4 linked regions of the Homo sapiens genome follow. The protein of the gene in region 4 interacts with the protein of the main gene of each other region in a pairwise test. Each region holds a gene or a part of one and is shown on either strand. Other genes may lie near its edges.

Region 1 (7,975 bases), on a different chromosome or scaffold from region 4:
CCCTGTTGGCTCTTCCTTCACGTCCCACTTCCCACCCTCTCTACACGTTCTCGCCACATCCCACCCAAAGTCCACTCACTGGTCCCTGTTTACACCTCAGGGCCTTTGGTCAAGCTGTCTTCTCTGCCCAAAACTATCCTACTCATCCTTGGGGATCCAGCTGAAAGACCACCTTCCTGCGACGGCTACCCAGGGGCAGGAGGGAGAGAAGCACAGCCCGTGCCCCGTATGGCTCCCGCCCCCGCGGTCACAACCACCGCCCAGTGAGTGCCTAGAAGGCAGGCGGAGGCCCCGTTCTCCCCGTTAGGCCCAGCATCACCGCCCGGGGAGACGGGAAAGAGGGCAAGGCCGAAAAATGGACAGAAAAAGAATGCGGACGGCCGGGCCCGCGGCGCTCCGAGAATCGGAGGCATCCTCAGGCACGGTCCCTCCAGGAGACCGGGAAAGCGGGGCTCTGTCAGCCCCAAAGCCCCGACGGCGGCAGAAGGCTGGCCCGCTGCGAGCGTCCGGCGGCGCTGGGTCCCCGGCACCTGCCCCTGCCTGGGCGGGAAAGGCGCTCAGTCCGAGCCGCGCCCTCCCCACGCGCGCTCCCAGGCGCCCCGCGGGCCGCGCCCTCCTGCAGGTGCCGGGCGGGGAACGCGGGCCCCTCCCTCGGACCCCGGCTGCCCGGCCACTCCCCCGCGCCCGGCCCCGCCCGGCCCTGCAGGGCACCCGCGGCCGCGCGGCGACACCAGGGCGGGGCCCAGCCGCGCCCGCCCCGCCCCGCCCCGTCCCCGCCGCCCGGCGCCGCACCCGCCTCACCTCGCCCCGACCCGCCGCCACCGCCTCTTCCAGCTGGGAGGCCCCGCCGGAAGTGACGCCACCGCGGGCTGCACAGGCGCAGGCGCAGCGCGCTCTCACGTGACCGCCCGGCTGGCGGAGGGCGGGGGCGGCCGGGATTCCCGTGCGGGGTTGGGGCTCGTGGCGGAAGCTCCGGACCTCCCTGGCCCGAACGGTGAGCGCCGCCGGCCACTGGGAGCGGCCAGAGCCCAGTAATCAGGACACCACCACAGGGACCACGTGTGTAGACCCAGGCCCCCTCACCTGGGAGTCACGTTTATTGAAAAAGTAAAAAGTGTCACAGTAAAAAATTCACCTGGGGACAAAGCCAGGCCTAGGAGGGGTGGCGGGGTCGTGGAGGGACGGGTCCGGCCGCCCCTGGCCCACGGGTGGGGCACGTGCTGGCCCATGGGCGACGCGCGGCTTCTCCAGGGAGGCGGCCCTGGGCGCGGGGGCGGGCGGGCAAAGCTGGCTCAGTCCATCGTGGTCCCTTTGAAGAGCTCCACCAGCTCCTTGTAGTCCGGGTCGATGAGGTCGGAGGGCAGGTCGCCATCGTCGTTGGTTGCATCCCTGTCCGCTCCCAGGGAGATAAGGTACCTGGGGTGTAAAGGTCGCTCTGGCTGAAGCGGGGAGGAGCCAGGAGAGTGCTCGCCCCAACCCGGGTCAGAGGGCCAGAGTCCTGGGGTCACCTGTGTGTCCCCCACCTTGGGGTCCTAAGGTCCGGGTAGGGTGAGGAGGAAGAAACCTGACCCTTTGGAAGCTGTGGCCAGCTTTTCAAGTTGGTTCTATTGAGGACAAAGGCAGAAACAGGATTCCAGAAGCCTCTAGGGTTTGCAGGGTTCTTTTTTTGTTTTTTTTGTTTTTTGAGACAGAATTTCGCTCTTATCACCCAGGCTGGAGTGCAATGGCATGATCTCGACTCACGGCAACCTCCACTTCCCGGGTTCAAGTGATTCTCCTGCCTCAGCCTTGAGTAGCTGGGATTACAGGCGCGCGCCACCACGCGTGGCTAATTTTGTATTTTTAGTAGTGAGAGGGTTCTTGTCACGAACTCCTGACCTCAGGTGATCCGCCCACCTCGGCCTCCCAAAGTGCTGGGATTACAGGCGCAGGCGTGAGCCACCGCCCCCAGCCTCTAGGGTTCTTGCCGACACCACCCGGGCTACATTTTGGGGCTCCCATCCTGGGGACCCACTGAGGCCCGGAGGGGTCGGGTTCAAGCCTGTGTAGACCCAGGGCCCCCTCACCTGGCTATGTCAGGGTACCCATCGCTGCAGGCAATGTGCAGGGGTGTCCAGCCCGCCTCATCTCGCTGGTGAATGTCAGCCCCGTATTTGACCAGCAGCTTCACGCATTCCAGGTTTCCAGAGAGCACGGCTTCATGCAAGGCGGCCAGGCCTGGGCAGGGAGGACGGGAGGGGTCAAGACTGAGCCCCAGGTCAGGTCCTCCTTGCTGGCCTCTCCCACCACCCCACAGGCCCTGGCCAGCTCTTCCAGGCTTTGCTCACCTGAGGGGTGGATGGTGGCCAGGGAGACTTTCCGAGTCCGGATGAAGCGCCCCACCTGCTCCAGGTCACCCTGCCGGATGTGGTCCAAGAACAGGACATCATTAGGGAAACGCACGCTGCGATCAGCCAGCATCCGCCGCCGCCGCTGCCGTGGGCTGTAGCGGGCATAGCGGGCAGTTCTGCTAGGCATCTTGGGCGCTGTGGGGCAGGTTGCCCCTGGGGACCCTACTGCACTGGGGTTAATAATGTATCCGGTCCCGACCAGATCAGCTTGAGGGCTCCTGTCGGACGAGCCCCGGCCTCTGACTTGCTTATATAGGGCTCAGGGGCTATATAAAGCTGCACGGTCATCCTCCCCGGCGCGAGGGGCTGAAACTGAGCTGCACCCCCGCCCCGCACCCCAGATCATGTTTAGTGACTCATCTTTCAGCCCATCTGTCACCGTGCCCGGCCAAAGGGGTCAGATCATTCCTGCCTGTCGCTCCCTGCCCCACAGCTGGACCTAGAAGGTGCCTTACCGAGGGCAGGAGGAGGCACCGGTGCAGAACCCATGAGATAGCTAGGAACGCGAGATCAAGGGCACAGTAGGTACCAAGGTCATTGGAAGGGCTTTTGCTCTCTACCTCCTGGAAAGTGAGGGGCGGCCACCCCCTCCACATCTGCAGAAGCACAGGTCCACCGTGCTGTGGTGAAACAGGCCTTAGCCCCTCCATCTCCCTACCTGTCAGTTTTCACCTTCCAGCGTGGCTTGCCTCACTCTCAGTGGTTTTCCCAAAACTACTCTGATGGCCTAGGCAGGCGGATCATGAGGTCAGGAGATCGAGACCATCCTGGCTAACACGGTGAAACCCCGTCTCTACTAAATATACAAAAAATTAGCCGGGCGTGATGGCGGGCGCCTATAGTCCCAGCTACTTGGGAGGCTGGGGCAGGAGAATGGCGTGAACCCGGGAGGCGGAGGTTGCAGTGAGCCGAGATCGTGCCACTGCACTCCAGCCTGGGCGACAGAGCAAGACTCTGTCTCAAAAAAAAAAAAAAAAAAAAAAAAAATGACTCTGATGGTGCTGCTTCCTGCTCAGAAACCCCGCAGGCATCCTTGGCTGGGATCTCAGTGCCTCAGGCTCCTGCTCAGTCAGTCCTGCGACTTTTCCTCCACGTGCCTGGCTCCCCTGCCTCACACACCTGCAGGGGACAGGGTATTCCCTACACACTCATGGGTTCACCCTGCATAGTGTCTCTGCATTCCAGGTTTGACACACATACTCACACTTAAGGTGGTGTCCAGTTTGCTCTCCACGTTCAGGGACCATCACACCCTGGGTGGTGTGCTCTCTCTGCCCCGGCCCCTGTGATCTTACCTCTAGAAGCACAGCCAAGGGAATTTTTTTGTTTGTTTGTTTGAGTCAGAGTCTCACTCTGTCGCCCAAGCTGGACTACATTGGCGCAACCTCGGTTCACTGCAACCTCTGCGTCCCGGGTTCAAGTAATTATTTTGCCTCACCTTCTCGAGTAGCTGGGACTACAGGGGCATGCACCACCACGTCTGGCTAATTTTTGTATTTTTAGTAGAGACGGGGTTTCACCATATTGGCCAGGCTGGTCTCAAACTCCTGGCCTTGTGATCCGCCCGCCTCGGCCTCCCAAAGTGCTGGGATTACAGACGTGAGCCACTGCGCCCAGCCAAGGGAATTTTTAAAACTCGTGTTCCAACAGGCTCTTCATTGCTGGCTGCCTTTACTTTTGCAACAGCCCCAGTGGAGGTCCAAAGTAGGGCTTGGACTACAGGACATGAGCAAGTGGATGGGATGGGACACAGACACAGAGTTGACCAGGGAGGTCTTTGTTGTCAGGGACAGCGATCGATTGTGCTAGGAGCACTGCAGCACTTGAAGCTGGATGGATGAGTCTGCCGGGGCTGTCTTCACAGACCACAGACTGAGTGGCTTAAAAAACAGATGGTTGGCCAGGCGTGGTGGCTCAACCCTGTAATCCCAGCACTTTGGGAGGCCGAGGCAGGTGGATCACCTGAGGTCAGGTGTTCGAGACCAGCCTGACCAACAAGGTGAAACCCCTTCTCTACTAAAAAATACAAAAATTAGGCCGGGCACGGTGGCTCATGCCTGTAATCCCAGCACTTTGAGAAGCCGAGGCGGGTGGATCACGAGGTCAGGAGATTGAGACCATCCTGGCTAACACAGTGAAACCCCGTCTCTACTAAAAATACAAAAAAAAAAAAAAAAAATTAGCCGGGCGTGGTGGCGGGCGCCTGTAGTCCCAGCTACTCAGGAGGCTGAAGCAGGAGAATGGCGTGAACCCGGGAGGTGGAGCTTGCAGTGAGCCGAGATCGTGCCACTGCACTCCAGCCTGGGTGACAGAGCAAGACTCCATCTCAAAAAAAAAGGCCAAGCGCGTTGGCTTACGCCTGTAATCCCAACACTTTGGGAGGCCAAGGCAGGTGGATCACGAGGTCAGGAGATCGAGACCATCTGGCTAACACGGTGAAACCCCATCTCTACTAAAAAATACAAAAAATTTTCTGGGCATGGTGGCAGGCGCCTATAGTCCCAGCTACTTGGGAGGCTGAGGCAGGAGAATGGCGTGAACCTGGGAGGCAGAGCTTGCAGTGAGCCAAGATCGCGCCACTGCACTCCAGCCTGGGCGACAGAGCGAGACTCTGTCTCGGGAAAAAAAAATACAAAAATTAGCTGGGTGTGGTGGCAGGCGCCTCTAGTCCCAGCTACTCGGGAGGCTGAGGCAGGAGAATTGCTTGAACCCAGGAGGTGGAGGTTGCAGTGAACTGACATCACACCACTGCACTACAGCCTGGGGATGGAGCAAGACTCCGTCTCAAAAAAAAAAAAAAAAAAAAGACGGTCCGTCCCAGAGCTCTGGAGGCTGAAATCTGGGATCCGGGTTTCAGCAGGGCAGGTTCCTCCTGAGGCTCTGAGGAGCGTCTGTCGCAAGCCTCTCCCCAGCTTCTGGTGCCGCCAGCAATCCTGGTGTCCTTGGCCCTAGCAGCATCGCCACGATCTCGGCCTTCATCTCCATGGTGTTCTCCCAGCCTTTGTCACTGTTCACATCACCCCCTTGTATAAGGACACCAGTTATAGTTGGGTATTGCCTCATCTTAACCAGTGACATCTGCAAGCATCCTGTTTCCAAACAACGGTCACATTCTGAGGTCTTGAGGGCTAGGACTTCAACGTTAATTAAGGAGACACATGAGTCAACCCATAATGCTGGTAAAACCCTGCAGGTGGTCACTAAAGGCCTGAATGAGGACAGAACCAAGACTGGCCAGCAGCTCTTTGCAGGGGCAGAGGAGAGCTGGGCCACCAACAGCCTCGCATCATTAGGCTGATCTGCATCCAACGAAATCAAATCAGCAAACATATTAGACACCTCTAGGTGCAAAGCCTTGGCCAAATGCTATGGGAGGGCTGGGCACAGTGGCTCATGCCTGTAATCCCAGCACTTTGGGAAGCCAAGGCTGGAGGGTCAGTTGAAGCGAGGGGTTTAAGCAGCCTGGGCAACATAGTGAGACTCCTTTGCTTTAAAAAAATTTAAAACTGGCCGGGTGCAGTGGCTCACACCTGTAATCCCAGCACTTTGGGAGGCCGAGGAGGGTGGATCACGTGAGGCCAGGAGTTCGAGATCAGTCTGGACAACATGGAGAAACCCCCCGTCTCTGCTAAAAATACAAAAATTAGCCGGATGTGGCGGCGTGCGCCTGTAATCCCAGCTACTCAGGAGGCTGAGGCAGTAGAATCTCTTGAACCCGGGAGGCGGAGGTTGCAGTGAGCCAAGATCGCGCGACTGCACTCCAGCCTGGGCGACAGAGCAAGACTCCATCTTAAAAATAATAATAATAAAAAATTTAAAAAATAAAATAAAAAGAGTAAAAGGAAAAATGCTGCTGGAGAAGCGGCGCTGACGGAGGGTCCCTGCCTGGCGAAATTTCCTGGACCTGCGTTGGTACCCAGGTGCACCCCCTGTCCCCTCCCCTGCCCCCTGGGCCCCTCGCCTCGGGTACACCACCTCTCCAGTCACACACTGGAGTGGCCCTGGAGCCTCTAGCCAGGCCCGGGCCTGCAGACACCCTGAGGGGGGTCGGCTCCCAGCGTGGCTGCATTTCTAGGGACTCAGGGAAAGGTATGGACAGTTGGAATTCCAGGTCACTTGGGAGGAGCCAGGCCGTTTTTTCTGGCTTGTTTACGTGAAGCCTGGAGACGAAACGTTGTACACTGGAGACAGGCTCTCCTCTGATGTGAAGATTGCCTTTTCTCATGTTGTGGAAAGTTCTGTCTGCCCTCCCCCCTCAGAGGATCAGATGAAAGCACGCTGGATGAAGCTGCCACCAACAGTGTGACGAGAAGGAACGCCCTTTCCAGGAGTGACCGGGCCTCAGGCTAGAGACGCGGTGGGGGCAAGACCACCCGGTGAGCCTGTTTGGCGACCCCAAGCAAGCCCCTGTGTCCCTCCTGCTGGAGGTGAGCTGGGAGCGTGCAGAGCTTTTGGCTTTGGGGTTTCTATCTGGATCACCCGAGGGACTGGTGCCTGAAGCCTCGCCAGTCACAACAGATTTCCTTGAAAGGTATTTATGTGCCTTCTATTCTAATAAGGATGTGGGAACCGTGTGTTCTACGCCATGATAGACACTCCCTGGAGCTCCTCACCCTTGAAACGTTCCATCAGAAGCCGGCCGTCAGCAGTCGTGCCTGCTCCACCGTGGGCGAAGCGTGCTGTTCATGCAGCGTGACGTCAGAGCCAAACCTGTCTTCATGGAGTTTTGTCCCTGATTCTTCTTGGTCCATATGAACTTGCAAATTGACCTAGTTTGCATGACTCTAAGTTTCTGCCTTCTGGAGGACGAACTAGAACATCTGATGCACAAGGTTTACCATCACACTTTTTTTATTTTTTTTTGAGACGGAGTCTCGCTCCGTCGCCCAGGCTGGACTGCAGTGGTGCGATCTGGGCTCACGGCAAGCTTCGCCTCCCGGGTTCACGCCATTCTCCCGCCTCAGCCTCCGGGGTAGCTGGGACTACAGGCGCCCGCCACCACGTCCAGCTAATTTTTTGTATTTTTAGTAGAGACGGGGTTTCACTGTGTTAGCCAGGATGGTCTCTATCTCCTGACCCCGTGATCCGCCCGCGTCGGCCTCCCAGAGTGCTGGGATTACAGGCGTGAGCCACCGCGCCCGGCCTACCGTCCAACTTTTAGAAGTCCAGTGAGGCCTGGCTGGGCTCAGAAGCTCACGCCTGTAATCCCAGCACTTTGGGAGGCCAAGGTAGAAGGATCACTTGAAGCCAGGAGTTGAAGACCAGCCTGGGCAACATAGGGAGACCCCCTTCCCTTCAAAAAATTTAAAAATTAGCCAGGCATGGTACTGGGTGCCTATGGTCCCAGCTACTTAGAATGCTGAGGTGCAAAAGATTGCTTGAGCCCAGGAGTTTGAGGCTGCAGTGAGCTACAGTCACACCACTGCACCCCAGCCTGGGCAACAGAGCAAGACCCTGTCTCAAAAAAAAAAAAATGTCCAGTGAATGCAACCAGCAGTGCTCTGCAAAAGCACCCGGGAGACCCTGTTAGTAAAGTCAGCTGAGGCCAGGCGCAGTGGCTCACGCCTGTAATCCCAGTACTCTGG
Region 2 (8,030 bases), on a different chromosome or scaffold from region 4:
GCTGTCACATTAGGATCTAGCCTCATTTACTGGGTCCTGACCCCAAGTTCCTCACTGTGGCCAGGTTCCTTTCTGATCTCTCCAAAGAGATCAGCAGGAAGCATGTAGGTCTGAGGTGGGGCTGTCTCATTTACAAGACGTCCTTATTGTGAGCTGAACTAACTGTTTGCGTGGCTACTGTCCCACTGCCTGCTTACTGACTGAAACTTCTGCTATGGTTTGGGGGACCCCTGACAGACTCATCATCTAACTGCAGGTCCCACACTGACCTCTGTCCCTTGGGCATCTCCTGGGGTTGGTCCTTGCCTCTGGTCCCAGTTTGCCCTTGGTTGTCAGGCTCCAGGTTCCTGGCTTCCTGCTCTGTTTTCAGAGTCACACTTCCCATGGTACTTCACAGGATGAAAGGCATCACGATCCAGGGGAGGCTTACGGCTGGCTGGAGGGAGCCTGCATTTTCTAATGGCCTTTATTAGCCGGCAGGGTACATTCTGCCAGCCAGTGCAGAGACAGCTGTTTTTCACTTCACTGACTTTGGAGAAACTGTGAAACTGTTTCTATTCCCTCCCAGTTCTTTCTGCCACCTTGGCTTCCCCAGGGCTGTCAGGAGTGTGAACCTCAAAGAAAGGGTACGTAGCAGTGGGAGGCCAGGCAGCAGCAGACCAATCAGAAATGCAAGTGTTCTTCTTGAGTGAACGTTTAAGGTGGACAGCAAAATTTAAGAGGCGAAGGCACAAATACTGGAGGTCTCAAAAGGAGAGGTGCTGCTTGTACCAAATAGGCCATGTCTCTTCATCTGAGTGCGCCTATGAACAGGCATGCTTATGCACACCATCTTTTGCTCTATATACTTCAAAGCAGAATCAGTCCTAGAATAACAGAGCTAGATGGCCCTCATGGATCACCTGGTTCAAACCTTCAGTTTATCAAAGCAACTGAAGCTCAAGTCACTATAATTAGATTAGGATTGCAGCAGCAGTATTTCCTATAAACCCCACCCTCCCAGTGAACACAAAATGTGCCAGAAGGGTCCAGCCAGCTTCTGCATTTTTCTGTCAATAGCAGCAGGGCTGGGAAAAAGCTGAAATGCTTAGACTAGCAACTCCCAATGCAGCCCAATTCTACAAGTAAATAGTAGAGAGGTGGTATGTCCCAGGGAATGGTCCCAGACGTAATGCAGATCTGACAGCAAACCCTTTCGACACCCTTCCCCTTTTTTAAAAAACAGAACTTGGGCACATTTTGGTCTACCCATGAGCAAATACTATTGGCTTCTCATTCCCGCTCCTTTCCATTTCTCCTGTAAGGTAGGTGGTGTGCATAAGCATGCCTGTTCATAGGCACGCTCAGAGGAAGAGACATGACCTATTTGGTACAAGCAGCACCTCTCCTACCTTAGGTAGGTGTAGCAAGATAGAATGGGAACCAGGTATCAAAGGTAAGAAGAGGTAATCCAATCTTGCTGAGCTTGAGAAAGTTATGAGGCTAAGCAGATATGAGAAACAAAAGACACAGGACTATGTATCAATCGATGTGCTCCTTCCTTTGTAAATGCTGTATCTCATACAGCCAGCCAGCTGGTAGCTTTTAAGTCTTAGAAATAATAATTAGAGCTATTTAATATCTCTTTACCCTCATGAAGAGCACATAAGTTAATACACAAGAAATAATAGCCTAAATGTCTCATGTCAACCCATGAGAAATTGTTGAAGAACAGCTGAAGAAACACTGATATGAATAAGTGGATAAATAAGCAGAGAGGAAGAGTAAGGCTAAGGAATATCCGGAAATTTTCCTAACAGTAAAACCTATTAGTCTCTAGAACAATGCCCCAGGGAACCCGTGAAAGGCCAATCTTATGAGTTATTTAAAAGTGGAGTGGACTTAGCCATTGGAATTATTCCATGGGGGAAACCCTTGCACTGTGTCGGATATGGACAACACTGCCTAATGGCTTGTTGTCATGTATAGTATTTTCCATGTTTAGCATGTCCAGCTTGTTCTCTGGATTTAACAGGAAACATAAGAAGAAAATGTAAGAAGTTGGCCCATGAGGAACTGCTAAAATAGGCAGTCGGGACTACGTATCTTGCCGGAGTCTCTTAACAGGGGCACAGCTGGGGTCATGAGGTTAGCCTAAATTCACAAGGAGCAAAAGGACAACCTGGTATTGGAAGGAAAGTAACTGCTCATGAAACACTGATAGAAGCTCCTTCTGGCCACTGTGGCGTGATCTTAAAATGGGCCAGTGCCAAGTTGCCCCTTTCATCACGGGCTTCATCAACCCACTCCCCATGTGTGACCTTCAGACTCTGTCCCCCGCTCATTAGATCTTCCACATTCTGTGTCCTCCCTTTATCGCTTTCGCTCTCACTTTCCCTTACTGCCTTATTTCTGCATTAGTGGATGATGGATGGATGCCCCTTCACAAACTTACCCACTCAAAAACCAAATGCCACTTATGTATTTTGAAATTTTTTGTTTTTATGGCAAGGTACATCTTGGTCTAGCTGTTAAATTCACTATTGTGACTTCCCTGAGTTTCAATGCTCTCAACTGGAAAATGGTGAAAATAAAACCATCTCTATTTACATCTCAGGTTGTCATAAAAAAACAAGTAAAAGAATGGATGTGAAATGACCTTGCAATCCTAACTACTGCCGAAATGTAAGGTGGTGCAGGTTCTTGGTTCTCGTCCATTTCAATGTTGCCCATCTCAGGAAAAAAGGTTTGAGGGCTTCTATCTTTTTATTATTAACTTGTATTATACACCTCCTAATAACTGAATATAAGAGCCACGAAAACAATAGATACTCCAAACATACTAGCTGAACATAAAAGATTGGAGAGTGAGGGGGAAAAAAGAGGGTCTCTTTTGAAATCATTAATAATAATTTGATGCTTTTGGCTGACCTGTTTAGTAAATTTCAGCACAATAATGCAACTGAGGAAAGAAGGGGAAAAATAAGATTTACTGAATACTTTATATAAAGGTAATCCTCACAACATTACCCCAATTTACAGATGAGAAAACTCAAGCCCCAAGGTCACAGAGCTGGTAAAAGGACAGGGTACAAACCCAGGTCTGCCAGATTCAAACTCACTATCGCGCCATGTGGCGTATTTGCTTTTGTCACAAGTTAACTTTGCTTTATCCTATAAATATATACCATTGATGTCACAAGACTATATGTAGATAATTCAACACAACCCAGACAGGCAGGATGGGGTCAGCACTCCCAATGCCCCTGCAGCTGCCACTGTGGTAATGTTACAAATCACATGGTACAAACAGGCACGTATGTTAGAGACCAGCATTGAAACATACACTTTGTCACAACCACTCTTTTCCACTGACCACCAGCTCAATAAGGCACTATTATCAAGTTAGAAAAATCCATGAATCAACCTACGAGTCTCAAGTCCTTCAGTTCATATTCATATTGAAGGCTGGGGTTTATTAACAGCATATCAGAAGCTGTTTTCGACAAATAAAACGTACTAACTTAACATTAGCAACATTACCTGTACCAAAGACCTTTAATGAAAAGGATCCCTGGCATACTACTAAGAGTTATACAAGTGCAGCTACAAGCAAGAAACAGAAAAAAGCTGCCAGCCACTAGGCTTTTGAGGACAACATAGGCTTTTAATAAATCTTGATTATATTCTTTCCACTAATGTTACTTTATTTTCCAGCTATCCAGATAATACTAACCCTCCCGTCGGATATTTGTAGAGTATAAAAATTTTACACCAAGTGATATTATTATAACTACATCAAATTAGACTGCAGAAAGGCATGCTGTGTAACTTAAACACTAGATTTAGTTGGGTTAGAAGGTCAAATCTATGGAGTTTGTCAGCAGAAGGAATCAACGTTTCCAACAATTTCTGCCTCTCAGAACAACCATATCCAACTGTTAAATTGGTTAAATGATAGGCAATTATGTGACCTGCCAGAATTGATAATTTGCTTCAGGGTTTATCATTAGCTTTCTAAAGTACATAAATTAGAGAAAATGCACGTCCTGTGAACATCATATTGTTCTGATATGAAGGGTCAAGAGAAGAATATGGCTATGGTCTATAAAAGCAGTGGAAATTCTTTTTAAAATGCTATCTCTGGTTTCCCTTTCCCTGTCCAACTAAGTGAACTCTATCAACTGGTGGAAGCGTTGGACAGTGACTGAACGGTGGTGTTTTGTTTTTTTTTTAACCTGGCCCTCTGCCTACCTACGGCTTATGGGCCCAAAGGTGCCAGCTCTTAATCTGTATCCTCTTCGCTAGCTCTAAATATTGGCCTAAAAGTATGAGGAATGACCTTGGGAACATTATTATTAGAAGACAAAAGTTCAGGGCAAGTGGAAAAAAGTATAATTGTAGTAGAATCCTTTTTTCTGCAAGTAAATGAGTTGTACATAAGGAAGATATGGGCTCTTTGACAATGATCGGACACAAGTTATGCCCTAATCAACTCATTACAGTAATTCTTGATGATGATGACTAGGGCTTAGAAAGCTTTTTCACACACAGTGGCCCATTTAGTCCTTACCACTGCCCCAGGTCATCCAGTTTTCAATTTGCCCAGTGCCCCCAGTGGCCTGGCTGGCACACCTACCTGTTTGGCATGATTGACACAGTGCATATACTGGGTGGCCAGAGCGGAGCATTTGAGGGTCTGGTGGGTGTTCTCACGGTAACACTGAAGAATTTTGGCCTGCAGATCAGCACAGACTGGATGAGACTCATATCGCCTGAAAACAAACACAGGGACCGCTGAGACCAATGGTCTTCATTCAGAATAAAAATCAAGGTTAAAGAACACATAAAACGCACAGTAAGACACAGATGTTGCAAATGTAGAAAAAGGTTTAAGAGAAAGAATTTTCCTTAAACTTCAAAGATAGCTAAATTTTTCCCATGATAAAAATGACAAAGGGTAAATAAATTCTAAGAAATTAGTTCCACTAATTGACACTACTGTGAGTTAGTCTGGACAATATAACCATCCCTTCCAAACCGAAACCATATCAACATGCCAGAAACTTGGAAGCCCTAAGTTCTCTCTTCCATTCCCATATCCACTTGGTCACAAAGTTGGAGATCCCTACGGCCTGGTCCTCCTGCTCCACACTCACTGTCGTTACATTGCTTCCAAGTGAGCCACATCCTGAATTCAAGAAACAACCTCCCAGCTGGTCTCTCAGCTTTGACACCCTCTACTCCTGCCTGCACACACCTTCCAGAGGGTTCTTTCCCATAGGAAATCGAAGATGGTCTCTTTTCCCAGCACTTTCTACACAAAATACAAGGCCAGCTGGCTGGTCCTTCTTGACCAGGTTCCTGCCTACTCTGTGGCCTTCACCCCCCAACCCTGCACACAGCTGAAGCCTGGACAAACCCAATTCAGGGTTTCGTTCTTACACTTCTCTTCAAGTCTAAGCTCATGCTGCTCTTGCTTCTGGAAATGCTCTACGCCCAAACTCCCACCTATGCCTCTATATCTGGAAAAAACCTACTCATCCTTTGATACTTCACTCAAGTGTCAGCTTTCATTAGCTCTCCACCCCCCAACCCTGGTACAGTCTATCATTCCCTTTATGGTGACCCCATTGGTCCCGTATTCACTTTTCTTGCCATGCATGTGACACTGACTACACCATAGTCTAATACAATTTAGCAACCTACATTTACTAGAATGTAAATTCCAAGGACTGTGACTTATTTTCTTTGTTACCTCAGCTATTAGACATCGGAACCCTACAGAAGTCATGTAATACATTTACTGAATGAATACAAATCGGTGCAAAGAAAACATTTTAAAGTCCCCTGGGTTAAAATTTTGCTACTTATACTTACAAATCTCAGATTTTAGTCAGATTGCTTCTGTGAATATGTGAGACCAAATGTAAATGTTTCCAAAAACCTTATAATATATGCTTGAAAAATGATAATGAACCAAATGAGTTATACGAATGAAGGTAAAATATTCTGATTAATACGGCAGGGAAGTTTGGACTGCAAGGATTAAATACATACAGAGAAAAAAAGCACAATATTACTACTTTTAATCTTGAAATTCGTGTTTTTTCAAATTAGTCTTAATACAAGAAGCTTCCAGTCTTATCACTTCTATTTTTGAAATTTAAATTTGTTATTTCCATAGTAATCTTGAAATCACATTATTTTAAATTTAATGGGTTCAAACAAAACCCCTAGAGAACACAGGGGGAATATTTCTCATCAATAAGGAAACGCCTGGGTGATGATTTGTCTCATTATTTTTATCCAGTACACTAAGCTAATATATATTTTACTAGAATAGAAATGCAAAGCATGTTGGTGGTTCCCTGACTTCCTACTATCCTCTAAAGAACACAGACATACAGAGAAAAAAAAATGTTTCAACAATTTTTCTATAACATCACTTTTACTTTTTCATTCATTACCTTACTGCTTTGTCAAATACCTAAGAACAGAATTAAATAGAATCCCAGGAGTTTCCATGCTTTAAGATTTCAAACTTCAGATGTCTGTGAATTTTTCTGGACACAGATTTCCCTAATCCTTTACCACGAACATCAGGATTTAAAAGGAATCAGCCGTGCTTCAAAGAGTATAGGCACAGATACCACTAAGTGACTAATTATAGCAAGACCTGCATCTAGATAAATATCGAATAAAATATGATTAAGCATCAGATCAGCTGAACCTAGCAAATACATGACTAATGACTAATAGCTCATAGGAAAGCAAGGTTACATTCTATCCTAGTGTTGACAACTGATCGTGTCTCCAATGTGTCTCAGATTTAAAAGCAGGGGGAAGGAGGTGAGGAGGGAAGGCTAGAACAACCCTGACCAGATATGCAGCCCTTCCTCATTAACATACGGGAAAAGACTGTAAAAATGAGCATCCACACACTGCATGTCATAAAGAAGACAGTTTATTTTTTCCTTTAAAAAGTCTACTCACGATGGGATAATTCACCTCATGTTATGGACTCCTTAGAAAGAGGTAGTTTAAGTTGTAGATAAGCATGTATCCTGGGTTGAGCTATTAGTCATGCAAGTTAAAGTCCATGCGTTATTTATGATTTGAAATGTGTCAAAATATACTTTTATCACCACAAATCAATACTACTCACTTCCAGGGCTCTTGATTTCCTGTTTGGTGATCTGTTCTGTGTGTGTGTGTGTGTGTGTGTGTGTGTGTGTGTGTGTGTGTGCAGTCATCCTCTGAAATTCTTTTTGTACACACTTCAATCTGTATTAATGATTTGATGGTAGAAAGAGGGGAAGAGGAATGGAAATCAGCATAATTGTCCTCCAGCTCCAGGAGTAGACTCTGGGACATTTTCTTGGATTAATCTGTAAGGGTAAAGGTTTGCCTCTGTATTGATCTGTAAAGCTTGTTATACTGCCCTAATGCACTGTTTTCACTTTGGGAAAATGCTAAATGAGATTGCTGTCTAACATTAGAAGGCCATAAAACACAAGCCATGGCACCTTCCATTCAGGATAAAGGTTTCAAAACATTTCCAATATGCATTATGGTAAACCCTCCATATATTCATAGAGTCAGCAATTGACTTTTATTGACTGCTTTCATTCCTGCTGATGGAAAAAGCCCCTATTAGGCAAAAATAATGAAAGGCAGACTTTCAAGATACCTAGGAAGGAAAATTAAGTCTTAGCAGCAAAGGACGATTAGACAAGTTAATTTCTTTGTATGTAAGGAAGAGGCAAAGAAATGGTGAATGACAATGGTAAGAGAAGGATGAAATATAGATTTGGAAAACTTAAAACACTAATAAAGAAGTGGGAAGATCTAATAGTTACTCAAAAACATGTTTAGCAAGAAGAAATCGGTGGAATAGAGTCAACCTTTGAAAATATACATGTAACAAAAACAAGAAAAAAAATCCAGTTTTGTGGTCACTTGAAATTACTGGGAACCTTTCATGGATCCTACCATATGTATGCACATCTCTTTTCTTTTCTTTCTTATACTCTTTTACTCTGCTCTTC
Region 3 (8,426 bases), on a different chromosome or scaffold from region 4:
ACATCTTCTATCCCCATCATCAAGGCTGAGAAGGGGCCTCTGCTCTTGGAATCACATCAAGCTTCACCAGAAGTCAACATGTCAATCAGCAAGATCAAGATAAGCATACACACTCAAAACGAGGCCTGTCCTTTCCCCAGCAAACGTTAAGAAGGAACAAGTACAGGAGGATCAATACCCCCCTTAGGTCTCCTACACCCATTTTGTATAAGGGTTCAGAGGAAGACTTTTCAGGCTTCCCTTCAAAAACAATTCATATGTTGAAGCCCTAACCCCAAAGTGTTAGTATTTGGAGATGGGTCTTAGAGAGATAATTAGGTTTAGATGAAGTCATAAGGGTAGGCCTTTTTGATGGAATTAGTACTCTTACAAAAAGAGACTCTAGAAAGCTTGCCTTCTCTATGCCATGCAAAGACACAGCGAGAAGGCAGGCAAAGGGCACCCACCATAAACTGACGATTCTGGCACCTTGATCTTGGACTTGTATCCTCCAAAACTGTGAGCAAATAAATTGCCATTGTTTAATCTACCCAATCAATGGCATTTTGTTGTGGAAGCCCAAGCTGACTAAGACTCTCAGCCACTCACTCTTATGTGTACACCTAGATCTGGTCATTACCTCTGGTAGGTGAGAAACCGAACTCTATAAAGGTTTGGTCTTTTTAAAAATCAGTATGCTCTATTGCCTCTCCCTCGATGTTCATGAAGACGACACAGGCCTAGATGAATTTGACCCAAATTCTAATTTAGAGCCCACTGTTTATTAGCTGTATGACATTAAGCAAACACCTGAAGCTTTAATTGTCTCATTGGAAAAGGGAAGATAATGTCCCCTACCTTGCAGGGTTATTTAAGCATTTAATTAGATTATGTATGATAAAAGCATAGCGTTGTTATTTTGTTTTTTTGAGATAGGGTCTCACTCTGTCACCCAGGCTGGAGTGCAGTGGCATGATCGCTGCTCACTGCAACCTCCACCTCCTGGGTTCAAGTGATTCTCATACCTCAGCCTCCTGATTAGCTGGGATTACAGGCATGAGCTGCCACACCTAGATAATTTTTGTATTTTTGGTAGAGACGGGGGTCTCACCACGTTGTCAAGGCTGGTCTTGAATTCCTGGCCTCAAGTGATCTGCCCGCCTCCCAAAGTACTGGAATTACAGGTGTGAGCCACTGTCCCTGGCTAGCATTGTTTTTATTATATTTTTCAAATATATGACAGCTATGAAATTATACCTGGCCAGGCACAGTGGCTCATGCTTGTAATCCCAAGACTTTGAGTGGCTAAGGCAGGAGGATAACTTGAGGCCAGGAGTTTGAGAGCAGCCCTGGCAACACAGTGAGACCCCATCTCTACAGAAAATACAAAAATTAGCCAAGTATGGTGGTGCATGCCTATAGTCCCAGATACTCAGGAGGCAGATATAGAGGTGGGAGGATTGCTTGAGCACAGGATTCTGAAGTTACAGTGAGCTATGAATGGCCATTGCACTGCAGCTTGGGTGACAGAGCAAAACCGGAAGGATGGAAGGAAGGAAGGCAGGAAGGAAAGAAGGAAAGAAGGAAGGAAGGAAGGAAGGAAGGAAGAAAGGAAATTATACCTTTTTTTGCTACCTTTTCACTCAAGAGACAGTATTGTTAGGTTGTTGTGAAAATTAGGTAAGGGAGTACATGCCAGGTGTTGGAAAACTACAGCCCACAGTCCGAGTAGCCTGCTGCCTGTTTTTTTGAACAAAGTTTTACTGGAGCACAATTACATCATTTGTTTAAATATTGTTTATGGCTGCTTTCCTGTTACAATTAGAGTTAAGTAGTTACAACAGAGAATGTATGTCATGCAAATTCTAAAATATTGACTATCTGGCTCTTTACAGAAAAATATTGTACACCCCTGATATAAGCAAGCATTTAAAACAGCCTTAGTATAAGCTCTCAATAAGCAATAATGTTTCTTCCTTGTAAGCTTACCTCAATTTGCTCAACAAATTATGGGCAACAGTTGCACACAGGAGAGCAAGTAGAAATAAATCACTTGCATTGTGAAGTCCAACAGTAAAACTCTAGATTACATAGTCCTACGTGTAAGTTCAGATTTCCCTGGGTGCCATAGCAGAGTTTTTATATTGGGCATAGGGCAGGGTTGAACTTCTATTGTATTTTCACATCACTGCTGATCCTGTGACCAGTGTATCTCACACCAAGCATAGCATATGTTCATCAGACTACAATCTATACAAGACACTTAACTAAACCCAAGATTCTCACAGCAAAACAGGCAGGACAAGCCTAAGAGTGAAACTAAATCACTCTCACGAAATATCACTGATGATATTCAAAAACTCAAATATGAAGATGAGACAGCTCCTAGGGCCACAAAGAGGTGGAAAAAAAAAAAAAAAACAAGAAGATGGTCTGAGAATTGGACTTTTATATCTTCAACATCCCACACTCCCATCTGTCCACAGCAAAATGCATAGAAAATATCCCCCTGACTGATGGTTTCTACAGTAAAAAAAGTGACATTGAGGTGAACCACCAGCTTCCCCTACCACCTTAAGTTTCCTGACAGGAGACCTTTCTCTGCTTCAACGCATGGGAAGCATCATGAATGCCTGAAAGGAAAAATATACCTGAGGACAGCCATAGATAAAGGAGGAGAGTGGGACTATTACCCCCAGCCCTAGAAACTCCATCTGAAATTCAGCCAAAAGAGATGCCAAATCAGGGTAGCTATTCAGCAGCAGTACATTGTAGGAGGAATAGTCCACAGGTCCCCTGGGCATGAACCACTAGCCAGCCTTCCCACACAGCTGGGATATCCCTTTTGGCACCTCCCCATTTGGGATGGGCAGTGCTCTGATCATTAACTGGAGCCAAGGAAAACCTAGGCTCAAAGCACAATCTAGTGTTAAAGAGAAAGCAGCAACCAGTGGGGGAAATAAAGAAATTCAGCAGGTAAATTCAAAGAACCTCTAAGCAAACATATCCAATAATAATCAAAACAAGCCAGAGAAAGAAGAGAGAAATAATCACTTAATGCAAAAATACAGATGTATATCCACAATAAACAACAGCAAATAGGGAACTATTACCTCCCTAAATGAACAAAGCAAGGAACCTGTGACTGAGCCTAATAGGATGGTGATACGGAATCTCTGACCAAGAATTCAAAATGACAATTTAAAGGAAACTCAGTATCTCCAAGATAACACATAAAAGCAACTTAGAAATTTATCAGAGAAATTTAACAAAGAGATTGAAATTTAAAGAAAAATTAGACAGAAATCTCATAACTGAAAAATACATTTGCTGAGCTGAACAATTTATTAGAAGTTCTCAACAGCAGAAAGGATCAAGCAGAGCAAAGAATCGGTGAGCTCAAGGACAGGTTATTTGAAAATACAGAGTTAGGGCCAGGCACAGTGGCTCATGCCCGTAATCCCTGCACTTTGGGAGGCTGAAGCTGGTGGATCACTTGAGTCCAGGAGCTTGAGACCAACCTGGGCAACATGGCAAAACTCTATCTTTACAAACACACACATACACACACACACACACACACACACACACACACACACACACACACACACACACATTATACATGTGTGGCTGGTGCCTGTAGTCCCAGCCACTCAGGAGGCTGAGCTGGGAGGATCACTTGAGCCTGGGAGGAAGAGGTAGCAATAAGTCCAGATCACTCCACTGTACTCCAGCCTGGGTAACAGAGTGAGAACCTGTCTCAAAAATAAATAAATAAATAAATAAATAAATAAATAAATAAAAGAAAAGGAAAAGAAAAACAAAATACAGCATCACCTTTGGGAGGCTGAGGTGGGTGGATTGCCTGAGGTCAGGAGTTCGAGGCCAGCCTGGGCAACATGGCAAAACCCAATCTCTACTAAAAATACAAAAAATTAGCCAGGTGTGGTGATGCATGCCTATAGTCCCAGTTACTCAGGAGGCTAAGCCACAGGAATCTCTTGAACCCAGGAGGCGGAGGTTGTGGTGAGCCAAGATTGCACCAGTACACTCCACCCTGGGTTACAGAGTGAGACTCTGTCTCCACCAAAAACAAAACAAAACACAACAACAACAATAACAAAAATATGGAGTCAAGAGAAAAAGGAAAAAAGAATGAAAGGAACAAAAATATAGAGAAAAATTGCCTAAAAAGACAAAAATCAAGAATTATGGATGTTCAAGTGGGAACTGAGCAAAAACAAGGGGTAGAAAACTTATTCAAAGAAATAATAAGAGAAAACTCTCCAAAACATGAGAAAGAAAAATACCTAGGTACAGGAAGGTCAGAGAACACCAAACAGATTCAACCCAAATAAGAGTACTTTAAAGGATATAATAATCAAATTCTCAAGTCAAGGACAAAGAGATACTCCTAAAAGCAACAAGAGAAAAGCAGCAAATGACATATAAAGAAGCTCCAATTCATCTGGCAACAAACTTCTCAACAGAAACCACACAGGCCAGAAGGGAGTAGGATGACATTTTGAAAGTGCTGAAAGAAAGTAACTGCCATCAAAGACTACTGTATCCAGCAAAGCTATCATTCAAACAGGAGGGATAAAGTCTTTCTCAGACGAACAAAAGCAGAGAGAATTCAACACCAAACCCATCCTATAAAAAATGCTAAACGGAATTCTTTTTTTTTTTTCTTTTGAGACAGAGACTCAGTCTGTCACCCAGGTTGGAGTGCAATGGCATGATCTCAGCTCACTGCAACCTCCACCTTCCAGGTTCAAGTAATTCTCCTGCCTCAGCCTCCCAAGTAGCTGAGATTACAGACACGCACCACCATGCCTAGCTAATTTTTGTATTTTAATAGAGACGAGGTTTCACCATGTTGGCCAGGCTGGTCTCAAACTCTTGACCTCAAGTGATCTGACCACCTCAGCCTCCCAAAGTGCTGGGATTACAGGTATGAGCCACCGTGCCACATCGGGAATTCTTCGATAAGAAAAACCACCATCACCACCGCCACCACCATGCAAAAAGAAAACATTTGAGGTATAAAACCCACTGTAAGTACACAGAAAAATCCAGAATGCCCTAATACTTGTAAAGGTGGTGTGAAACCCACTTATAACTCTAGTATAAAGCCTAAAAGACAAATCAAAAACTTTAATAGCTACAGTAATCGTCAAGAGTTAGGCAATATAAAAATATATTAATTGAGACAATATAAAGTCAAAATGTGGTGGGGGGATAAAGTTTGTTTCTATTGTGTTTTCGTGCTCTGTAAGTTTTCATCTCTTTACAACTTGTTACATCTATAAAGATGTTTTTTTTTGTAAGCCTCATGGTGTCCACAGTACAAAAGAACTATGAAAAAGGGCGTCGGATTTGCTCCACCCCCCCCACCCCCACCACACCCACCACCCCCCACCCACCACTCCCCGCGGAGCTCTAGGCCGGCATCTCTCCGCGAGCCGCGGGTCAAGTGCCGGCGGCTAATGGTGCGCGAGGAGCCGCCACCCATTCGGCGTTGGCTCTGGCGTCGGGGTCGTTGTGACAACCGCTCCAGTAGCCGTTTCCGAGGCAGCAGGTGCGGCCGCTTTAGCCCTGAGCGGGCTCTGCGGCTGCCTGCGAGTCTCTGCTGTGCCGACCCTTCTCTTCGCGGACCCCACGCCAAGCAGCGACCCTGAGGCGACAGCCGGAGCGCCCGGCAATGGCGGCCTCGACGGCCTCCCACCGGCCCATCAAGGGGATCTTGAAGAACAAGACCTCTACGACTTCCTCTATGGTGGCGTCGGCCGAACAGCCCCGCAGGAGTGTCGACGAGGAGCTGAGCAAAAAATCCCAGAAGTGGGATGAAATTAACATCTTGGCGACCTATCATCCAGCAGACAAAGGCTATGGTTTAATGAAAATAGATGAACCAAGCCCTCCTTACCATAGTATGATGGGTGATGATGAAGATGCGTGTAGGGACACCGAGACCACTGAAGCCATGGCGCCAGACATCCTAGCCAAGAAATTAGCTGCTGCTGAAGGCTTGGAGCCAAAGTACCGGATTCAGGAACAAGAAAGCAGTGGAGAGGAGGATAGTGACCTCTCACCTGAAGAACGAGAAAAAAAGCGACAATTTGAAATGAGAAGGAAGCTTCACTACAATGAAGGACTCAATATCAAACTAGCCAGACAATTAATTTCAAAAGACCTACATGATGATGATGAAGATGAAGAAATGTTAGAGACTGCAGATGGAGAAAGCATGAATACGGAAGAATCAAATCAAGGATCTACTCCAAGTGACCAACAGCAAAACAAATTACGAAGTTCATAGAAGAGATTTGTTCAACACTGCAATTGTTTGTTAGATATAAACCCTGTGACTATAATACATTGCTTCTTGTTCTCCACAATTCATGACTTAAGTACCAAAATGCATACCAGTTATTATATATTGCCAAGAATTAAATGATAAACTTAGAGACTAATTAGACTGAAAATGCCTAATTGATATATATATTCTTATGCCTAGTACTTTACCACAAATACAGTGTAATATCATCAGTCCAAAACTGCATTACTTTCATAAGAACACTGGTTAATTTGTATAAGATATTATAGAGCTTTTTATGCTTTAGAAGTTAAGCAATATCTTTGGGGGGGAACTAATTTATTTTCATCACTCGAAATGTGGTAGCTCTTACAAAGTTTGTTGATTTGTTTTTTTAAAAATCAAAAGCCAGTTGAACAACAGGATATATAGACTTATAAATATTCAAGCTGAATCGTATTTTAACACTTCTCTTCAACTTGATTTGTCTGTTTAATTGAAAAGAATTGTAAGAGTTACTGTTGCATTTTCTGACCTACTACCTTTAAAATTCCTGTTGAGTTTCTTTGTGTTTACAAGGAAAGGACTGAACTTTTTCTCATCAAAACTAGCTTTTTTCCCCACAAATAAATTATCAGGTTAAACTTTCACCAATGTCTGCTCTGTTTTTTGGCAGGGGGTTTGTTTGTTTTTGTTTTTTAATGTTTTTGGTACACTGGGCAGACTTCAGAGCAGTTTTTTAAAAAATAAATATTCTAATGTAGCTATCTCGCCATTCCCTTTAAATACCTGTCTTAACCTCCTGCTTTTATTTCCTACTCCTTTCCACACATACACACACAATCTTTTACCTTTTAAAGGATCATTAAGATTGTCACGACATTAGGAACTCTTTCTGTCACTCTTCTGTCATTTGCTGCTGTGTGGAAATTCTTATTTTGACCATCAATGCCTATGAATTCTTCTAATACATGAAGAAAATAGATTGAGTAGCAGCAGTACTATAGGCAGGAAATACAGTTTAACTGCTGAATTTCTATGCCTCTCGATTTACAGATTGCTAATTAAATTGCTATTATTAGTTTGGCTTAATTAGACTTAAGAAAACAACCGAGGGTTTTTTTTTGTTTTTTGAGGGTTTTCTTTGCATGAGAATTGTATGTAACCAGTGATATGATTATTCCTGAATGTACAGACAGAAGTAAGCCTGGACATTTTTTAATTTAAAAACTTTAAATAGTCCCTGCTTTAAGGGAATATGATAATGTATACTATGACAAATGTACTTTATTCCTCTAACGCAGTAAGAATTATGTGGAATATTTTCCTTAAACGAAGTGCAGGAAAGCCCTGTGTGTCTTGGTTTGGTTATGGTTTCATTTCTAGCCATACAATTGATGAATCGTATACAATTTTCGTTAGTACCAAAATAATCTGTTATATGAACAGACTTCTAAAATAATGTCTGTATAATATATATTTATATATATAAAATAAGGCTTTTATTGAACAGCTTATCTTCCACTTGCAGGTTTATAGAAATATCAGTATTTCAAAATAAATAAAAAGTGGGAGAATTCTTTGCTGTTAGAAGAATGTGGTTATTATTTTGATTTTTTTAAATGAGATATATAATCAAAGTACTGCTGAACTATAAGTGCAGTATTCTAAACATTTCATCTAGTAATACCACTGATTTAGAAACAAAACTGTTTATCTCTGGTTTCTGAATTTAGAATTTTGGGATTACCTGTTTAAATCTGTCTTGGGGGATGTAGAGATTAAGTCTGTACATATGTGTGCACATATATTCATGCAACCTCTGATTTTGGTTTTCTTGTTTCTGAGTTCTTAGAAAGTGTCCACATACTCTTTTTTGTAGAAGTAGCTGTTGTAGAGTGAAGAAAAGGATAAGACTTTAAACAGTTGATTCTTTTTGTGTTTTCTACAAACTATTTTTTGAAATTTAAATCACAAGCAAACTCATTTTCTGGTTTTTAGAAAGTAGATGATTTCAGAGGAGTAAGGCATGCCAAGCAGCATGCTCAGTGGGGTTTTAGGCTGTCACATGCAGCTGAGAAAAGGTATGTTCAAGTCATAAGTCGCTAATTGATAGGGTATGAACTAG
Region 4 (8,022 bases):
AGAATAATCGCTTGGACCTGCAGGGGCAGAGGTTGCAGTGAGCCAACATCACCCCACCGCACTCCAGCCTGGGTGACAAGCGCAAAACTCCGTCTCAAAAAAACAAAAAACAAAAAAAACTTATCAATAATACGCCCACCTAAAAAAGAAAAACAAAAAGCAACTCATAAAATGTAGTCACCAGAAGTGTGTATAGCTGATCTGCGATTTAATACAGTAAAAAAGAAAAAACAATCAGGAATATGTTGTGGGGCTACAATCAGCATTTTAAAATGAGATCAGGTCCTGCTGAATGTTTTCCCCTAATGCAGAGAAATTCTTGCCAAATTTTTACTTACACGTTCATTTGACACTAAAAACACTAACCATAGTTATTCTTGCTAGGCAGCTTTACAAAATATCACTAACTAGCATCTAATATCACTGAAAATCCAGGTGGACAAAATTTTCTTTGAAGATTAAAAATAATTATTTACTAGAAAATTCAAGTCTGCTCTGGACAAGTCTTTCAACAGGTCTGGATCTGGGAAGGAGCTGAAAAACCTAGAATATTTAAGAATCCCTTGGGGGCACTGTCAAACTAAATATGCTTCTGTAGGATGAAGAAGTACTGATAGAATGTGTGCTGAACATAGGACAGAGAGGAGGCTGAAAAAGCCTGAAAGACACTTGTTTAGACTGGGAGCTCCTTGAGTGAAGAGACTGTGTCTTATCTTAGGATTGCTGGTGCCTGGCAAGGAGGAGGTCAACTTGTTAACGCTTGCTAAATTAAGAGAGAAACGTATCTGGACTACAATTCTTACCCGCCCCCCCCCCGCCCCCCCAAAAAAGGAAAACAGATTGTACAAACCAAATATTTAATTTGAATTCACAAAAACAAATGGAATCACTTATTTTTCCCCCAGTGTCTTTTCTAGTAACCTTGCACAACCCACTCGTGAAGTTTAAGTACCTGTAATCATATAAAGGTGCGTCTAATTTAAAAGGATACAAACATTTTAAAACATAAATCTGTTTTATGCCTACAAAATATATGGAAAATGAAATAAAATATAAATAAATTGAGATACAAACATATTTTTAAAATATTTAAATTTACAAGCAAAGTTTAAAATATATAAAAATATGCCGGGCGCGATGGCTCACGCCTGTAATCCCAGCCCTTTGGGAGGCTGAAGCGGGTGGATCACGAGGTCAGGAGTTCAAGACCAGCCAGGCCAAGATGGTGAAACCTCCGTCTCTACAAAAATACAAAAAAAATTAGCCGGGCATGATGGCGGGGTGCCTGTAATCCCAGCTACTCAGGAGGCTGAGGCGGAAGAATCGCTCGAACCCGGGAGGCGGAGGTTGCAGTGAGCTGAGACCGTGCCATTGCACTCCAGCCTGGGCGACAGAGTGAGACTCCGTCTCAAAAAATAAAAATAAAAAAAAAATAAAAAGGAGTAGGCCTCTACTTCCCAAATGTAAACAAGACATACACATTTTTAAATTAACTGTATTTCCCTCATAAAACAGTTACAAAATACAATTATTTTCAAAGCAAATTTCTCAAAGACCCAGCAAGATGTTCACATCTGAAACAAAGTCTTAGGTAGTGAACACTGACTGCAGGCACCAGGGGGCCTCCCAGGAATAACTTGATAGTAAAGGAAAAGGTAAATAAGAGTTCCTGGTAAAACTTTTGCTTCCTATTCAGTCTTAAGACTGCTGGATGGCTTTCACATCTGGAGCAAATACACAGTATTTAGTTACAGAACAGGTACTCACAGAACTTGGGTTTGAGATACCGACACATACTTTGAGAAAAAGGAATTACCCCTCCCCCATTACAATATTCTTTGATGATTTTCCAAATATAAGTACATACTGCTTCACTCTAGCAATTATCTTAAGGTAATTTGAAAGCAAACAGTACATATGCAATCGCTGGACGGCGGCTAACAAAGAGGCCTCTAAATTGTTTAAAAAGGATTAAAGGCTTTTCTACACACTCACAAAACAATTATTGATGACGAAAACTTTAGGGTAGAGGGACTGTTTGGCAGAAGACTGCATTTAACTTTGAATAATATCCTGCAATGAATCAATACATTTAACTCCCGGCTAGTCCACCTCTTCGTTTTCCCCCCTTGCCTTCCCACCAACATAAAACTATTCAATAAGAACACTTGAGCCCGGAAAGTTCAAATGCTGCGTAGACCTACAAATACCTTTCGAATACAAGACAGGCTTTAAAAATAGATTTTCACTAAGTTTGTGCAGAAATTAAGCTCTGCTCAAATCAAATGCAAAAGCCAATCCCTTCAGCAAACCCATCTACATACATCACATTTCTTAGGTGCATCTTCAACCTGATCAAATATCTTGTCTTACAATTTTTTTAGGCCAAGTAACAAACGGTAGATTAATTCCCGCTAATTTTATCCTCTCTTTAAGAAGAATCCATTCTATATAGCATTGTGTAAAAATGCAGAGCAGACGAAGCAGTCCTGTTAAGGACAGGTTTATATATATATACGTAAAATTCACTCCCGGAACGACAATCGGAGGCAGCCAAGGGCAATGCACAAAGAGAACAGAGAAGAACAGTGATTCCACGGACGCACAAAGCCCAGTGGCAGGCATCCTCTCCCCATCCTCGGGTCACCGGAGGCGAGCACCACGGCGCGCGGAGCCCGGCGGCCTTTCCGAAAGGCTGTCTCCCGCAGACCCGCTCCGCACAGCCTTCGGCCGGCGGGCCTGGCCCCCGAGGGTCCGCGGGAACGGCCCCCTCTCCCCCGATCTCCCCTGACCGCGCTCCCAGAGGCCGCTCCCCCGCGCCCAGAGCCTCCTCGCCCCCTCCTCGGTTCGTCCGCCGCGCCGCGCTCCCAGAGACTCGTCTCGGGGCGGGAAAGGGGTCCCCTCGCGTTCCGGCGGCAGACGGGGACGCAGGGGTCGGCGGCGGTGCCCGACCTCCCTCTGTCCCGCGGCCAGGCGCGCACTCACCCTCCAGCAGCCGGGTGATGAGGCTGTCCACGTTCAGCTCCCCGTCCGCCATCTTGTCGGCACAGACTCTCCTTCCCAGCAGCGGGAACAAGGGCTTCTCGGCGGCGGAGGCTGCGGCGACGGCTCGGCGTTCTCTCACCTACAAGTCACGCGGCGTTTCGACCCCGGCTCCAACTCCCCCTTTTCCCGGGCCCTCCCCCCACCCCCTCCCCGCCGGGTAGCGAGAGCGCGCGCACACTCGGAGGCACCCACGGAAAATAAATAAATAAACAAGAGAGGCCCCCTCGAACAGGGCCGCGTCAGACCCAGGCCGCCACCTCCTCCTCCTCGGCACCGCCCAGCTCCGCAAAGCTCACCAGCGCCGCCGACGGCCCCACCCGCAGCGCCACTCACTCCGCACGTCCCTTGCGCGCCGCCGCGTCACGCAGCTCTCCGCGCAGGCGCGCGGTGCGCTCCCCGCCGAGGCTCCCCTCGACGCCTGGGCCGCCGCGCAACCGCACTGGAGCGGCTTCTCCCGCTGCCGTCTTCGCGCAGGTGCGTCGCCCTCTCTCCACGTCCACGGCGCCGAGTCTCGCCACGGTGGCGCAGGCGCCAGGGAGGTTCCCCGGCTTTGCCGCGCGGAGGAAGTCCCGGTTACGCAGAGCGCGCTGGGGCAGGGCTGACCTTCCCCTTTCTCTACTTCACTGGCCTCCTCCAGACGTGGTGGTTGCGCCCTTTCGGCCTCGCTTTCCGTTTTTTGGCTTCATCCCCTAGATCTGCAAACAGTTCCTCGTGTTTCTTCCGTTAGCCGGGAAACGCGAACTGCAGCGTTTGGGACCCGGGTTTGCGCGTGTGGAAAGCAAAAGGGGTTACTCTGCTGGAGTTCGACATTGCAAATAAAGGTCTTTATCCCCGGCGGTTCTACAAAATTAGTTCTGCAGGGATTCTGGTTGAAAGAAGCGTTAAAGTGGGCCTTGTAGGAGTCAGCAATAATCCAATTTTACATGGGTGCAGGTGGCTGCCTGTGTCTAGCGCTTTCACACATCTCATATCTTCATCCACGCCGTGGGTATTTTTTTTCCACGGTGTGTTTCTGTTGCTGCCTCCAGTATATTGCTTAATCATCCTACCTGGTAATTATTTATGCATTTTTCTCCTACTCTCGACTCAGCTCCTAGGGAATAAAAACACATTAACTTATCTTTGTGCCCACAGCACCCACCAAGTATTTCCATCACGTAATACTGCCTCTAGAAAGGCAGGAGGAGAAGCAGTCACGCTAAGGATCTAGGCAAGCCAGATCTTTTGTCCGGTTTTAGGAGGTGGCCAGCCCTTACTTATTCCACAAGTGTTTTTCCAGAAACTCAGACTTGATATTGCCTCAAGTCCAAGGCAGTGTGCTTCCCCCACTCACATATCACTAATAGTAGCTAACATTTGTTCAGATCCCTGTATGTACTCTGCCACTGTTTTAAATGTTACACCCGGGTTACCTCATTTAATCCTTACAACTGCCCTGTGAGGTAGGTACTATTATTATCTCTACTTTGTAGATGGGATTCACCGAGGCACAGACGGTTAAAAAACCTAGCCCAAATAACACAAATAAACAGCAGAGCATGCAGTGCTAGAGTCTGCATTCTTAACAATTGCTATATTCTCCCTCTCCGTGAATGTGGGCTGAGATGCTGAAACAGGCATGTGCTGTGGGGGAGAAAAAGCTTTGTCCAACCAAGTGCTTTCTAATGTCCAGATGACATAGAGCTAGGATTTCCTAATGTCTTTTTTCCCCTATTTTTCTCTCCATTTCAGGGTTGAGTTTGTGCATCGATTGTGAACACAACAGGCAGCAGGCTATAATGGTGGTCCTGGCTGGAGTAGTTTTCACAGACTTCAGTAATCTGTGGAGATGAACGGGCAGTTCTCTGTAGTTTTCACAGATCACTGCCAGTTCGTTTTGAGGCCTTCAGGAGTGAAGACCTGGCTCATCATCACTCTTTGTTGTTTTGTTAAATTTATTTACACCCTACTTTATTCCAGAGGAAAGGATTTAACGTAGTTTACATAAATGTGTACATCAGGGTAAATTAAAAATAAGTACAGAGAAAAATAGGACAAAAGAAAACCGTGAGTGTGAAAGATAAGATTAAGCCAGCAGTTTTGTATGCAAAATGCATGGTGTAAGGTCCTATTGGTTTGCTGGAGGTAGGCCACACATATGACTCTCAGTTTTCTAGCAACCAAGAAAAAGATCAGTTGCAATCGGAGTAGGTGTTTTGGCTAAGCTGGAACTAGGACTTGAATATAGCAGCTTGTAGAGTTATACCACTTGCCCAAATCTCTTCCATGAGCCTCTTTAAGTGTAACAGAATGCCTGGGAGCACGTAAATGCTCCTACTTAGATGCCTACTTAGCCTCTAATTTTCATGGGGCCCATGAATCCCATGAAAAAGAACTTTGAACCCTGTCCACAATTAGAGTTCAGGTATACGCAGACATGTTTAAAGACAAGGGACACCCAAAGGAAAGATTGCACAGAGAGAAAGTGAGCATCCGAGAGAAAATCACCACAAGTGAGGCAGAGGGAGGCCGGTCTCAGCAGAGTTTTGGAGGTCGTGAGAAGAAGAGGTAGGAGATAGGAGAGTGGTTCCGAGTACTTGCCTGCTGATGTTACCTTCTCCACCCCCACCAGGTTTTCCAGTGCCTGGAGTCTTGGGCAGGAATGGGCCACTGTAAGAAAGAGCTTTATCACTAGGGCCTCAGCCAACTTTTCTGTGGGATATCCCTCCAAAATAATTAAGAGTTCAGAATGCTTCAGATTTTGAAGTGAAACTGGTACATATATTAAGTGTTACTTAATAACCCGATAGTTTCTAGGGCAGCTCACCATAATCCCAAGTATTAGCCACCACCCTCACCCCCTTCAGAGTAAAATGTGTTTCCTGAAGGAAGTTGGGAAAATGAAGAAAAAAAATACAAAAATCACCTATAATCTTACCAGTCATAGATGGCAGTTTTCCTGTCTTATTTCTGAATAATGGTTGTTAAACATTTGCCAGCACACCATAAGGCTTAGGGAGGCATCTGGGTCATGCATGTTAATATCCTTGGGTAATTCCAGAAATCTCTATGAAGGGAAACTCCTGTTATTTATCTAGACTTCCTGATTGCAAGGGGTTTGGGCATCATGATTTAGGGGTCTTAATAAAATTATTATTTTATTTTTACTAATAGATAATGTCTGTGCCTATCAGATAAAGGCAAACCAGTGCTCAGAGGAACCCAACCATCTCTGAATTGAGACCAGAGAGCTGTCTCTATGGATAGTCCTTAGAGAAGGCATTTCGGAACACAGTAAACAGCAGCCTGGTGACTCCGGTTAGTAAACGCAGCAAAGACTTTCATAGGGATGTTTTTCTTATATGCCTGTCAGTATTAGCCAGTAGCCAATCTGGTGTGAAAGTGAGTAAGTTTAGGTAGCAAAATGTGGAGGGGGTGATATATAGTTTTTTGCTGCTCTGGCTTAATCCAAGATGACTTTTAAATGAATGAATCAACATTCATTGGGCTGTCCTTCCATAAATATGATTCTTCTCAATCAAGTGTTTAATAAGTCTTAAGTAGTGGTAAGTTGAAATTTTACTAGTTGTATCTGGAGGTCAGCCATTCTTTATATCGCATGCATTAAGCTTTTATAGTCAGCTCAATTCAAGAAAATTGGAAAACCAGACAAGGACATATATGCATCATTAGGAGGCCACCTCTCTCAATACAGAGCCAGGCCTAGGTGGTACAGCCAGGCAGGGCCAAGATTTGTTCTTAAGATTTAGTTTTGGTTTCATTTCATTATACATATGAGAATAGCCAAAATTATAGCTAAGCCATAAGGCATGTCCTCAGCCAGTTTAGTCCCCCAGAATTATAAGGCAAATATAAATAAATGCCTCCTTCCCTGCCCTTGGTCAGTAACCTCCCCGGTGGCCCCAACCAACTCTCTCTTCTCTCTCTCTCAGTTTGTCTTAAGCTAACTCCATAGTACATCCGTATCTTTCAAGATAAAGTGATTGAAAAATAAATGTCTAGTAATTGAAGGAGTTAACTGGCTATTTAGAACTGTTAACTATAAGGCAATTAAAGCTAGGTGAACAGCTACCACAAGTAATGACTATTTAATTGTTGAAGAGTTTATCTGTGGCCTTTTTTTCTTGTAATTAGATTACAGGGCCAGTTGCCTTTGTTACAATAAAAGCAAGTCATCTACACAGGTAAGAATGTTTCTCTTTTATTGCTCCCCCCTCCCCCCATCCTGCTCACTGAAATGGATACCAGGAAATAACTGTTTGATGAGGGAAAGTATACAATATGTGAATATTTGTTTCAAATGAAACAGTGTACTGTAAATGTTTTGTTTCTTGTTGCTCTGTTTCTCCTGTAGTATATCCAAATCACATATAATTCACCTTTTCAGTTGGAGGTTTACCGCTAAATGGCTTAATTTTTTTTCTTTTTTTGAGACAGAGCCTCACTCAGGCTGGAATACAGTGGCTCATTCACAGCTAACTGCAGCTTTGACATCTCAGGCTCAAGCAATCCTTCTGCCTCAGCCTCCGTAGTAGCTGAGACCATAGGCATGTGCCACCATGCCCGGCTATTTTTTTTTATTTTTAGTAGAGACAGGGTCTCGCTGTGTCAGGCTGGTCTCGAACTCCTGGGCTCAAGCAATCCTCCCACCTCGGCCTCCCAAAGTGCTGGGATTACAGGCATGAGCCACCGCACCTGGCCCTAACTGGTTTTTATGTCTCTGTTTCAATTGGGTTTTGGTAGATAAGACAAGGAAAGCATTACTTTTTTTATGTAGTTATAAAATGAGTAGCTTCTCATAATATATAAGACCACATTAAAATTAATAGCATATGTCTGTTAAAACTAAAGCCAAACTATTTGTGAGCTGTGAAATATATTCATCAGAGTTACATCCAACACCAATAGGTCTTTTATATAGGAAACACTGGTTAAATAGAATATTTATTAATTATTATTTAAATCTTGATTTAAACC

Evidence for each region.
Region 1: the proteins of PPP1CB (region 4) and PPP1R27 interact in binary tests that used the Homo sapiens proteins (3 or more experiments, as listed by UniProt).
Region 2: the proteins of PPP1CB (region 4) and CHCHD3 interact in binary tests that used the Homo sapiens proteins (3 or more experiments, as listed by UniProt).
Region 3: the proteins of PPP1CB (region 4) and PPP1R2B interact in binary tests that used the Homo sapiens proteins (3 or more experiments, as listed by UniProt).

Annotation. Positions count from the first base shown.
Region 1 is NC_000017.11:81,832,437-81,840,411, forward strand, and holds PPP1R27 (protein phosphatase 1 regulatory subunit 27), read right to left. Parts: upstream 2,615-7,975; 5' UTR 2,518-2,614; coding exon 2,328-2,517; intron 2,218-2,327; coding exon 2,067-2,217; intron 1,417-2,066; coding exon 1,293-1,416; 3' UTR 1,056-1,292; downstream 1-1,055. UniProt on the Homo sapiens protein: Inhibits phosphatase activity of protein phosphatase 1 (PP1) complexes.
Region 2 is NC_000007.14:132,791,824-132,799,853, forward strand, and holds part of CHCHD3 (MICOS complex subunit MIC19), read right to left. Parts: intron 4,755-8,030; coding exon 4,619-4,754; intron 1-4,618. UniProt on the Homo sapiens protein: Component of the MICOS complex, a large protein complex of the mitochondrial inner membrane that plays crucial roles in the maintenance of crista junctions, inner membrane architecture, and formation of contact sites to the outer membrane.
Region 3 is NC_000005.10:156,844,880-156,853,305, forward strand, and holds PPP1R2B (protein phosphatase inhibitor 2 family member B), read left to right. Parts: upstream 1-5,415; 5' UTR 5,416-5,683; coding exon 5,684-6,301; 3' UTR 6,302-7,649; downstream 7,650-8,426. UniProt on the Homo sapiens protein: Inhibitor of protein-phosphatase 1.
Region 4 is NC_000002.12:28,747,140-28,755,161, reverse strand, and holds the start of PPP1CB (serine/threonine-protein phosphatase PP1-beta catalytic subunit), read right to left. Parts: upstream 3,333-8,022; 5' UTR 3,038-3,332; coding exon 2,986-3,037; intron 1-2,985. UniProt on the Homo sapiens protein: Protein phosphatase that associates with over 200 regulatory proteins to form highly specific holoenzymes which dephosphorylate hundreds of biological targets.